Homo sapiens: one gene and its partners. The protein of the gene in region 1 purifies or fractionates together with the protein of each later gene. This does not show direct contact. Each region holds a gene or a part of one and is shown in the gene's direction. Other genes may lie near its edges.

The links.
Region 2: the proteins of BOD1L2 (region 1) and ATG4A purify together in Homo sapiens (affinity purification with mass spectrometry; one large-scale study listed by BioGRID and IntAct). This does not show direct contact.
Region 3: the proteins of BOD1L2 (region 1) and DCP1B purify together in Homo sapiens (affinity purification with mass spectrometry; one large-scale study listed by BioGRID and IntAct). This does not show direct contact.

What each region holds. Positions count from the first base shown.
Region 1 is NC_000018.10:57,145,556-57,149,308, forward strand, and holds the start of BOD1L2 (biorientation of chromosomes in cell division protein 1-like 2), read left to right. Parts: upstream 1-1,531; 5' UTR 1,532-1,757; coding exon 1,758-2,276; 3' UTR 2,277-3,753. UniProt on the Homo sapiens protein: May play a role in proper chromosome biorientation through the detection or correction of syntelic attachments in mitotic spindles.
Region 2 is NC_000023.11:108,098,179-108,101,831, forward strand, and holds part of ATG4A (cysteine protease ATG4A), read left to right. Parts: intron 1-3,653. UniProt on the Homo sapiens protein: Cysteine protease that plays a key role in autophagy by mediating both proteolytic activation and delipidation of ATG8 family proteins.
Region 3 is NC_000012.12:1,955,930-1,959,582, reverse strand, and holds part of DCP1B (mRNA-decapping enzyme 1B), read left to right. Parts: intron 1-3,653. UniProt on the Homo sapiens protein: May play a role in the degradation of mRNAs, both in normal mRNA turnover and in nonsense-mediated mRNA decay. May remove the 7-methyl guanine cap structure from mRNA molecules, yielding a 5'-phosphorylated mRNA fragment and 7m-GDP.

The sequences.
Region 1 (3,753 bases):
CCTTTCATCTATGCAATCTTTATTCTGCAAATATTAATGGTGCCTCTCTTTTGTTCCAGGCACCATGCTAGGTGTGCATGTTGCATCTAAGTTCCCATGGAGCTTGTGTATGTCCTCAATGGTTTTCTCTGTCAACATCTCCCCTCTCCAACTAGATTGTAAGCTTTTCAAAGGCTGGCCATGTTGCCTGTCTTAAACAACAGCCACAGCAAACATTTATTGAGTGTTAGACTGGGCCAGGCACGTGGAGAGCTCCATAAAGCTTAGCACAGGGCCACATCGACTAGTCCCTCAATAAATATTGATTAATTTAAAAAAATACAGAACTGAATTGTCGAGCTGATCATGGGGATGGTGAGGAGCATAGGTAGGGGGTTGCTGTGGTGAAGTCTTGGTAGGTTCACTGTCTCCTGTGGGATGAGATTCAGAATACGTCCATCTGAGGCATCTGTACTTGTATGTCAGAAGCTATGGGGTGAGGTTATTGACAGAGTCTGTTGTGTAAACTTTCTTTGTGAAATATACTACCTTTAAGCTATGTTACGGCTTATAGAACAATGTGGTGTCTACATCTCAGGGGCATTTTAATTCAGGGAAGTGAGTGTTGGGGTGAAATCAGGGATCTGCTTTTCTTTTGAAATATTGATAGAAGGTTCTTTCTGTGCACCTGCACTTCTCTATTGGATGGCGCTGGATGTGGTTGCCTTTTGTGGCTCTTGGTTGCAATACAGTTCTCTTGTTGAAATGACCTCCTTCTGACTGACACATCTGCCCTAGGCTCATCAATGGCTACCAAAGCCAATGGACACCTTGTGGAACATAGTGTGGCATTTCACCCATGGCCTTCATGAAATGTACCTTTTGCGGTCTATGATCCAAGGCTTTTGTAGTTTTCCCTCCATCTTTTTAGTGTTGTTCTCAGTCCCCCTCATGGGCTCTCCAGGTGTTCCTCTATCTCTTCTAAGTTCTCCATTGTAATTGCCACCTATAGTCTCTACCTTCAGTGAGTTAGATGTCTCTCCCCAGCCCCTAGTCCTTGTATCTTTGGACTTCATAGGCAGATGTCTGCATCTGAATAACCCATACCCATCTTAAACTAGTAAATAAAAATGGAATGCACGATCATGTCTCTGTCTCCCATCCTCACCTCTATACCTGTTCTCCATTTAGTAAATGGCACCTCCATGCACCTGCCCAAGTGAGAAGCCTGGGGGTCATCCTTGACCCTCTCCTTTCCCTCGTCCCTCACCCCGTTGTTCTCCAATCCCTGGGATGAGTCTATCTCCTAAATATCTCTTGTATCCCTGTTACCTTCTTCACCTGCCAGGCCACGAAGATCATTCACTCCTCGCCATCTCCTTCTTAGGGCACTGAAATGGTTGCTGAAATTGTCTCCCTGTTTCGCCCTTGCCCACTGGCATTTGTTTCCCACCTCCCTCTTAGAGATCTTTTAAGAAATGCAGATTACGGTTCCCGCCTCACAATGCAAAGGTCAACGGTGACGCCATCTGGAGCGCGCTTGGAATCCAGCAGGCGGTTGCTGCCGCGTCTTCCACAACCTCCGCGGTCTGGAGCTGGCCTCCCCCACCGCCGCCCCAACCACCGGCCCCGCCGCCATCACCACCACCGTCACCTCCGCCGCTGCCTCCTTGGGGCCCTCCTCCTTCACCGCCCCCTTAGCCACCTCTACACATTCTAGGCTTTCTGTCCTGGAGAAGAAGCTATAATCGGTTTCCTTGTGGGCCCGGTGCGCAGCCATGGCGGACGGTGGCGGCGGCGGCAGCGGCGGTGCGGGCCCGGCCTCGACCCGGGCCAGCGGGGGCGGCGGCCCCATCAACCCGGCCTCGTTGCCCCCTGGCGACCCTCAGCTCATCGCTATCATCGTGGGGCAGCTCAAGAGCAGGGGCCTTTTTGACAGCTTCCGCCGGGACTGCAAGGCTGACGTGGACACCAAGCCAGCTTACCAAAACCTGAGCCAGAAAGCGGATAATTTTGTGTCGACACATCTGGACAAGCAGGAATGGAATCCTCCAGCAAACGACAACCAACTGCACGATGGTCTGAGGCAGAGTGTGGTTCAGTCAGGGAGGTCAGAAGCTGGAGTGGACAGGATTAGTTCTCAGGTGGTGGATCCAAAACTAAACCACATCTTCAGGCCACAAATAGAACAAATAATTCATGAATTCCTGGTGGCCCAGAAAGAAGCAGCTGTGCCAGCACTCCCTCCAGAGCCAGAAGGCCAGGACCCTCCAGCTCCGTCTCAGGACACTTCCTAAGAATATGCCTGACAGCTTTTGAAAGCGCTATTTAATTTTTGGTGAAGAAATGGATTCGGTTACATAAGAGTGCAGTTTCAGATTGAAGATAAGCCAAGTTCATCACTGAGCTCAAGATTTCCACCTCGACCATGAGCAGTGACCAGATTGAAAGGGAAGCAAGTTCGCCAGAGAGAAAGTTGACCGTGGCACCCTCCTGCATTGCGCTGCCATTTGGCCAGCCTTTCCAAGGGCATGACACCAAACACACACTACAGAGAGGGAAACACTACCGCGACCCAGGATTGTCCTGAAACAGACATCTATACTTGAACATGGAGACTGCACATGGATTTTAGGGTTTGTGCTCTGAGATAAACGAAAGCTACAGCGAGAGAACATAACCAATCCCAAAGACAATTTCAAAGAACAATGACAGTAAAGGTTAACTGGGAGGAATATTTGACAGTACTTATTTGATATTGTCTCTCAGAGTTGCAAACTAGATTGTACACAACATTAGTGTCAGATAGCTTTGAAGTTGTGACCTTCTTGTACATGAATCTTCTAGCCAGTTTCCTTTCCTTTGTAAGAGATAACAAAGCATGAAACCCTAGAATGAGTGAGAAGTTCAGACATTAGGTATAAGGAAACTCATTTGCAGACTCTCTGTCCAAGAATGCTTCCTGTCTTGCAGGGGCTAGTGAGTCTTGGGTGTGTTTATGTTATGCTCACATTTGTGTTTTATTTGAAAAGTGGATGGTCAATAAATGGCTTATCTTTCAACTGCAACAACAAAAAAGAAATGCAGATTTACATCCTTTTCCTCTTTAAGCTCCGTCAGTTTTCTGATATTTCTAGAAGGTCAGACACCTGGCATGGTTTATGAGGCCCGTGATAATGGGGCCCCTGGTCACCTCTGCTGCCCCGTACACTGTCATTTCTCATATGACAACCATGCCCATGACTATCCTGGACACCCTGTGTTCCCTCTGCTCACTGTGAAGGGAATGCCCTCAACCACTCCTACCCTCCTTTAAGACTCAGCTCCTGAGGAGCCACACATCGTCTAAGCAGGAGTGACAGACTCCTTCCTCTGTGCTCCCATAGATCTCATAAGGGATGACCACACTTACTATAGTAGCTAGGTCTGACGAAGCACTTGCTCTATTGCTCTACAGCTGGCAGTGTACTAAACGCTTAACTTCGCTTACCGTAGTAAGTCCTCATGATCTAATTGAAGAAATCGTATCTTTATTCCCATTTTTATTCCCATTTATAAATGTAGAAACCAAAGCTCAGACACTGCCTAAGTGGTGGGGCTGGGGCTGAGCCTGTATTGAGCACAGAGCCCTCACTTTTAACCCTTTTAACCATGCTTTTAGCCACACCACCTCACCACAGTGAACTGTCTTTGCTTACAGATCTGTCATCCCCACTTAAATGTGAGCTTCCTCCAGGGCAGGGATTTGCTTTGTTCATTTCTTTTCCTTAACCC
Region 2 (3,653 bases), on another chromosome or scaffold:
TCCCACATGTTAAATGTCCTTGGTGTTATATGTCACTGGGCTATACAAACCTTCCCCATTTAAAAGCGATTCCTTCACAAAACTGGCAAACTGTTACAGGCTGTTATAATAAAGCACTTTATATTTACTCCCTGAGTTTTAGCTTCCACACTCTTGTTTTAAGTTGTTTGCTTTATAAGTGGTTTCTTTTTTTAAAAGGGTTTTATTATGAATAAGAGACTCGCAATAATTTGCAAAGATAGTACAGAAAGGCCCCATATAATCTTCATCTGAGTTACTTCAATCATTGCATTTTACATAATTATAATACAATATCAAAACCAGGAAATTGATACTGGAATGATACGTGTGTATAATTCTATGTTATTTTATGATGTGTAGATTTGTTTAACCATTATCGCAATCAAGAAATATTCCATCTCTCCTGTGCTACCTCTTTATAGTCACACCCACCACCTACCCCCACCATTGATAACCCCTGAAAAATACTAATTTGTTCTCCTTTTCTATAACTGTCATTTTAAGAATTTTATATATAATTAAAATGATTTAATTTTTAGAATCATAAAGTATGTGACCTTTTCCACTATTTTTCACTCAGCATAATACATTTGAGACTCATTCAAATTGGTATCAATAGTTCATTCCCTCTTATTGCTGAGAAATATTACACGACATGGAGGTACCACAGTTTTTTTAACCATTCATCTATTAAGGGACATTTTTAAATGTCCAGTTTTTGGCTATTACGAAGAGAACTCTTATTAACATTGAGTACAGTGTTTTGTGTAGATGGAAATTTTCATCTCTCTGAGATAAATGCCCAGGAGAGCAATTACAAGGTGGGACGGTAAATATATGTTTAATTTTAAAAGAATCTGACAAACTAGTTTTCCAAAGTGACTGTACCATTTTGTATTCTCACCAGCAATGGTATGAGAGATCCAGTATCTCCACATCCTTTCCAGCATTTGGTATTCTCACTATTTTTTTTTTAAGTTTTAGCCATTGTGATAAGTGTGTAGTGATATATTACTGATTTAATTTGCATTTATCTGATGGCTAATAAAGTTCAACATCTTTTCATGTGTTTATTTGTCATCCCCATATCTTCTTCATTTAAATATCTCTTTATATCTTTGGCCCATTTTCTAATTGTATTGTATTGTTTGTTTTACTGTTGAGTTTTCAGAGTGCTTTATGTATTCTAGATACCAGTTCTTTGTCAGATATGTAGCTTGCAAATATTCTCTTCCAGTCTGTGGCTTGTCTTTTCATCTTAATAGGATTTTCCACAGAGAAAGAGCTTTTAATTTTGATGACATTCAACTTATTGATTTTTTTCCCTATTATAGATTGTGCTTTTGTTGTTACATCTAAGAAGTCTTCACCAAGTCGTAGGTCTCAAATATTTTCTCCTAGATTTTCTTCTGAAAATGTTATAGTTTTACATTTTACATTCAAGTCCATGATCCATTTTAAGTTAATATTTGGCATAAAATGTGAAGTTTAGGTCAAGGTTAATTTTTTTGGATTATTGATATCTAGTTACTTCAGCTCCATTGAATTGCTTTTGCACTGTTGTAAAATATAAGTATGCCGTACTTGTGTATATCTATTTCTGAGTTTTCTAATCTGATTCATTGATCTACGTATGTGTCCCTCTGCCATACCACACAGTGTTGAATACTGTAGCTCTATAATAAATCTTAAAATTTGATAGAGTGATTCCTCCTAGTTTATTGTTTTCAATATTGCCTGTTCCTTTAACTTTCCCTATAAATTTTAGAATAAACTTGCCTATATCTGAAAAAAGTTAGCTGAGATATTGATAGGAATTGTATTAGACCTGTGTATCAGTTTGGGGAAAACTGACATCTTTACTATGCTGAGTCTTCCAATCCATGAGCACCATATGTCTCTCCCTTTATTTAGATCTTCTTTTATTTATTTTATCAGCACTGTTCAATTTTCAGCATAGAAATCTTGTATGTTTTGTTAGAATTATACATAACCATTTCATTTTTGGAGTGACTATTAATGGTATTTTATTTTGAATTTTGGTTTCCATGTATTCATTGCTAGTATATAGAAATATAAATGATTTTTGTATGATAGTTTTGCATATTGAAACCTTGCTGAATTCACTGATTAGTTCTAGGGGGTTAAAAGGTATTTTTCTAATTTTTTTTCTTTTGTTTTCATTGTTTTTTAGGACTTTCTATGTAGACCATCTTGTCATCTGCAGAGAGGGACAGTGATATTTCTTCCTTTCCACTCTGTGTTTTATGTTGAATAGCAGTGGTGAGAGCTAAATTCTTGTCTTGTTCCCAGTCTTAGGGAAGAAGAGGTCAGTCTTTCAGCATCAACTATAATGTAGTTTTTTTTGAAGTTTAGATCGTTCCCTCTTGATTTCTAGTTGTCTGAGTGTTTTTATCATGAATAACTATTGAATTTTGCCAAATACTTTTTGCATCAATTGATATGATCTTGTGATTTTTCTTCTTCAGTTTGCTAATGCAGTGGATTACACTAATTTATTTTCAAATGTTGAGCTAGCCTTGCATCCTTGGATAAAACACATTTGGATGCGATGTATAATTTATATGTTATATTTGCTCATATTTGCTGGGGATATTTGCTTCTATTCATGAATGATATTGGCTTGCAATTTAATTTTTTGGTACTGTCTTTGTCTGATTTTGGTATCAGTGCAATATTGGCCTTATAATAAGAGTTGGGAAGTAGTCCCTCCTCTTCTATTTTCTAGAAGACATTGTGTAATATGAGTGTTAATTCTTCTTTAAGTATTTGGTAGAATGCTGCAGTGAAATCATTCAGGCCCAGATGGTTTCAATGAAGAATTTTTTTTTTTGAGTTTTAAAATTATATGTTCAATTTTCTTAATAGTTACCAAGCTATTCAAATTATCTAATTTCTATTGAGTTGTGGTGGTTTGTGCTTTTCAAGGAATTTATCCAGCTTATCAAAATTATCAACTTTATACATGCATATTTGTTTGTAGTAATCCCTTTTGGTGTCTGCAAGGTCTATAATAATATCTCCTGTTTCATTCCTGATATTAATGATTTGTGGCCTATCTTTTTTATTTGTCAGTTTTGCTTAAGGTTTGTGAATTTTATGAGGCTTTTCAGAGAACTACCTCTTTGTTTCATTGATGTTGTCTGTTGATTTTGAGTTTTCAATTTCATTGACTTCTGCTCTTTATCTCCTTACTTCTGCTTGCTTTCAGTTTAATTTGCTCTTACTTTTCTAGTTCCTTAGGGTGGGAAATTAGATTATTAATTTCAGACATTTCTTCTTCCCTAAGTTAAGCCTTTAGTGCAATGAATTTCCATCTCAGCACTGCTTTAGCTGCATGTCATGTATTTTTTTTATCACAGTAAAAAACCATAGCAGGAGATTTAGTTCTTAACAAACTTTAAAGTGTACAGTACAATATTGTTAACTATAAGCACAATGTTGTACAGCAGATCTCTAGAAATTTTTCATCTTGAATGACTGAAACTCTATGCTTATTGAGCAGCAACTCCCCATTTCCCACCCCCCACCAACCCCCTGGCAACTACTATTTTCCTTTCTGTTTCTATGAACATAACTAATTTAGATATATAAGTGGAATCATGCAGTAT
Region 3 (3,653 bases), on another chromosome or scaffold:
TTTTGCCTTTTTGATGGTAGACATTCTACCAGGTTTGAGGTGATATTTCACTGTGGTTTTAATTTGCATTTCCCTGATGATTAGCGATGTCGAGCATTTTTCACATACCTATTGGCCACATGTATGTCTTCTTTTGAAAAATGTCCACTCAGGCCCTTTGTCTATATTTTGATCAGAACATTTGTTTTCTTTTCTTACTGTTGAGTTGTTTGAGTTCCTTATCTACTTTGGACATGAATCTCTTATCGTATGTATGTTGTGCAGGTATCTTCCTCCACTCCATAGGTCATCTCTTCACTCTGCTGTTTCCTTTGCTATGCAACAGCCTTGGGTTGGATGTAATCCTGTGTGTCTCTTGCTTTTGTTGCCTGTCCTTAGGGTCACATCGAAAAAGCCATTGCCCAGAGCAACGTTAGGGAGCTTTTCCCCTGTTTCCTTCCAGGAGGTTTATAGAAAAAGTCATTGCCCAGAGCGACGTTGGGGAGCTTTCCCCCTGTTTCCTTCCAGGAGGTTTATAGAAAAAGTCATTGCCCAGAGCAACGTTGGGGAGCTTTCCCCCTGTTTCCTTCCAGGAGGTTTATAGAAAAAGTCATTGCCCAGAGCGACGTTGGGGAGCTTTTCCCCTGTTTCCTTCCAGGAGGTTTATAGAAAAAGTCATTGCCCAGAGCGACGTTGGGGAGCTTTTCCCCTGTTTCCTTCCAGGAGGTTTATAGAAAAAGTCATTGCCCAAAGCGACGTTGGGGAGCTTTTCCCCTGTTTCCTTCCAGGAGGTTTATAGAAAAAGCCATTGCCCAGAGCGACGTTGGGGAGCTTTTCCCCTGTTTCCTTCCGGGAGGTTTATAGAAAAAGTCATTGCCCAGAGCGACGTTGGGGAGCTTTTCCCCTGTCTCCTTCCGGGAGGTTTATGGAAAAAGTCATTGCCCAGAGCGACGTTGGGGAGCTTTTCCCCTGTCTCCTTCCAGGAGGTTTATAGAAAAAGTCATTGCCCAGAGCGACGTTAGGGAGCTTTTCCCCTGTCTTCTTCCAGGAGGTTTATAGAAAAAGCCATTGCGCAGAGCGACGTTAGGGAGCTTTTCCCCTGTCTTCTTCCAGGAGGTTTATAGAAAAAGCCATTGCCCAGAGCGACGTTAGGGAGCTTTTCCCCTGTTTCCTTCCAGGAGGTTTATAGAAAAAGCCATTGCCCAGAGCGACGTTAGGGAGCTTTTCCCCTGTCTTCTTCCAGGAGGTTTATAGAAGAAGCCATTGCCCAGAGCGACGTTAGGGAGCTTTTCCCCTGTCTTCTTCCAGTAGGTTTATAGAAAAAGTCATTACCCAGAGCAACGTTGGGGAGCTTTTCCCCTGTTTCCTTCCAGGAGGTTTATAGAAAAAGTCATTGCCCAGAGCAACGTTAGGGAGCTTTTCCCCTGTTTCCTTCCAGGAGGTTTATAGAAAAAGTCATTGCCCAGAGCGACGTTAGGGAGCTTTTCCCCTGTTTCCTTCCAGGAGGTTCATAGAAAAAGCCATTGCCCAGAGCGACGTTGGGGAGCTTTTCCCCTGTTTCCTTCCAGGAGGTTTATAGAAAAAGTCTGCCCAGAGCGACGTTGGGGAGCTTTTCCCCTGTTTCCTTCCAGGAGGTTTATAGTCTCAGGCCTTACGCTTAAGTCTCTCTAGAATTCTTAAATTTGTGAACATCCCAAGAAGTGGAAGTAGGAAAAATGTTGAGCTATCAGTATATATGATATGGGTAAAGTGAAGTCTGTCTAGTTTACAGGAGGTTAATAAAATAATTTGAAAACTTATTTTGGCTGAAATTTTGTGCATTCTCTTTTGAGAAATAACTTTCTGTGAATCTGCTTTAAAGTAGAAAAGATGTTAATTTGCATTTCATCTCTTTTTATCTCCGCCCTATTCAATTTCTAGTTGAGATGCAAGTGAACAGTAAAATAACCAAATTTTAGTAAGAACAAGAGGCAGGACCAGAAATGATCTACAGGCTGCATAGTTAAGCTTGGAGTATTCAGAAGTGGACTATTTGTGTTTTGTGGTTTAAGACAAGAATTATTGGCTCTTTTCTGGATATAGCTGTGAGTTATTTATGAAATTATAGAAATTTTTTTGTTGAATGATAGAATTCAAAAGAATATAAAAAGAAAAATCACCAATAATCCTATAAACTGAAGATAGAAACTTTTTATACTTTTATTGTATTTTGTTTCAAACATCTCTCTTGGCATAAATACATATGTTTATGTATGTATGTGTTTGTGTGTGATTAAAACTGGATTATATGACATACTTTTTGAGGTTTTATTGTATTTTAACCTCAGCATCCAACAGAGGAAGTTTTTGAAGTTTTAAAGAAATGCCTCAGGTTCTCTGTGAAGAATCCATTATATGCTTTTTCAAAAACTGTTTTTCCCCCCAGGATTTTAAAGATATTTAGGTCGGGAAAAGCATACAAAATTAAACAACTGGAAAATGAGCTACAAACTACTGAGGTGGATGATTAATTCTGAGCACTCTGATAAGAGGGAGCAATTGTTACATAAAAGCAAGGTTTTGTAGGTAGGCAGTTGTAGTGACACAGAAAACAGCTTCTGGAGATAACATTTTAACTAGGAAAAGCTATCAGGCTTATTCATATCAACAGACAAAGCATCCTGTTAGCCCATATGGATATGGGCATAGGGAAGCTGGGAAAAATCTGCCTTTCTTTGCCGGAAATTCAGTGTTTCTGAACATAGAAAAAGAAGAAATACAGAAAGCGTCATTCAAAGAAAGGAAGCATTCACGTTCTTTTAAATAGCAAGGCTTTTCATGCCAAAATTGTGTAAGGGATTAAATGTTAGCCTGTATTCTTGTCTTGTCTTGGTTATCCATGACTTGGGAAAGCCATGCCAGTTGGTCCATGCCGCCATACCCTCATTCACCTAAGAAGAATTGGAAGTAACACTTTATGACTTATAAGGTGATTTTGCATCCCACGTAATACTTGTGCTAAATATACAAATTATTGATAGAATGCCTGGAGGAAGAGAATCTTTTGTATGGTTAACCTCACATACAGTGCATACAGTGGTAATAGATGCCACACCCCCAGATCGTTGGATTAGAGAATACACATTGATAACTGTAAAACACATTGGGAATGCTGGGTTCCTGAGGGACAAGATTGTGTTTATATTTCATTTCATGTCAGGTGTGGAATATTTTGGGGCCTGAGGCCTTGGCTGTACAGTGGAAACAAATGATGCTTCAGAGAGTCTGTAGTACAGAAAGCAGCATTTTATATTGTTTTATTTAGTGTTTTAGCAAACTAGACACCAGTATCATTGCCATGCTCTTTTTGTTATGAATCCTACTGTGTTAGCAATTGCATGGTTGGTTAGATTAATGTATAATAATGAGTCAGTGTTGGAAATGATGAGATTTGTCTCTTGTCTCTTTCTCTACAAAATTCTAATTTGTAGTAAGTAGCTCAGAACGCTCAGATTTGAATTACTCTGTTTATGCAAGAAGTCATTTATTAAATAAAGATGATGTTAGTAATTTTTAAATCAGTGGTTTGAGTCAGCTTTTTGGTTTGTAGACCAAAAAAGATTTAGTTACTTTGATGAAATGTACTCAACTACTCTCCAATTTTAAGTCAACTGCTTAAATTGTCCAGACATGTT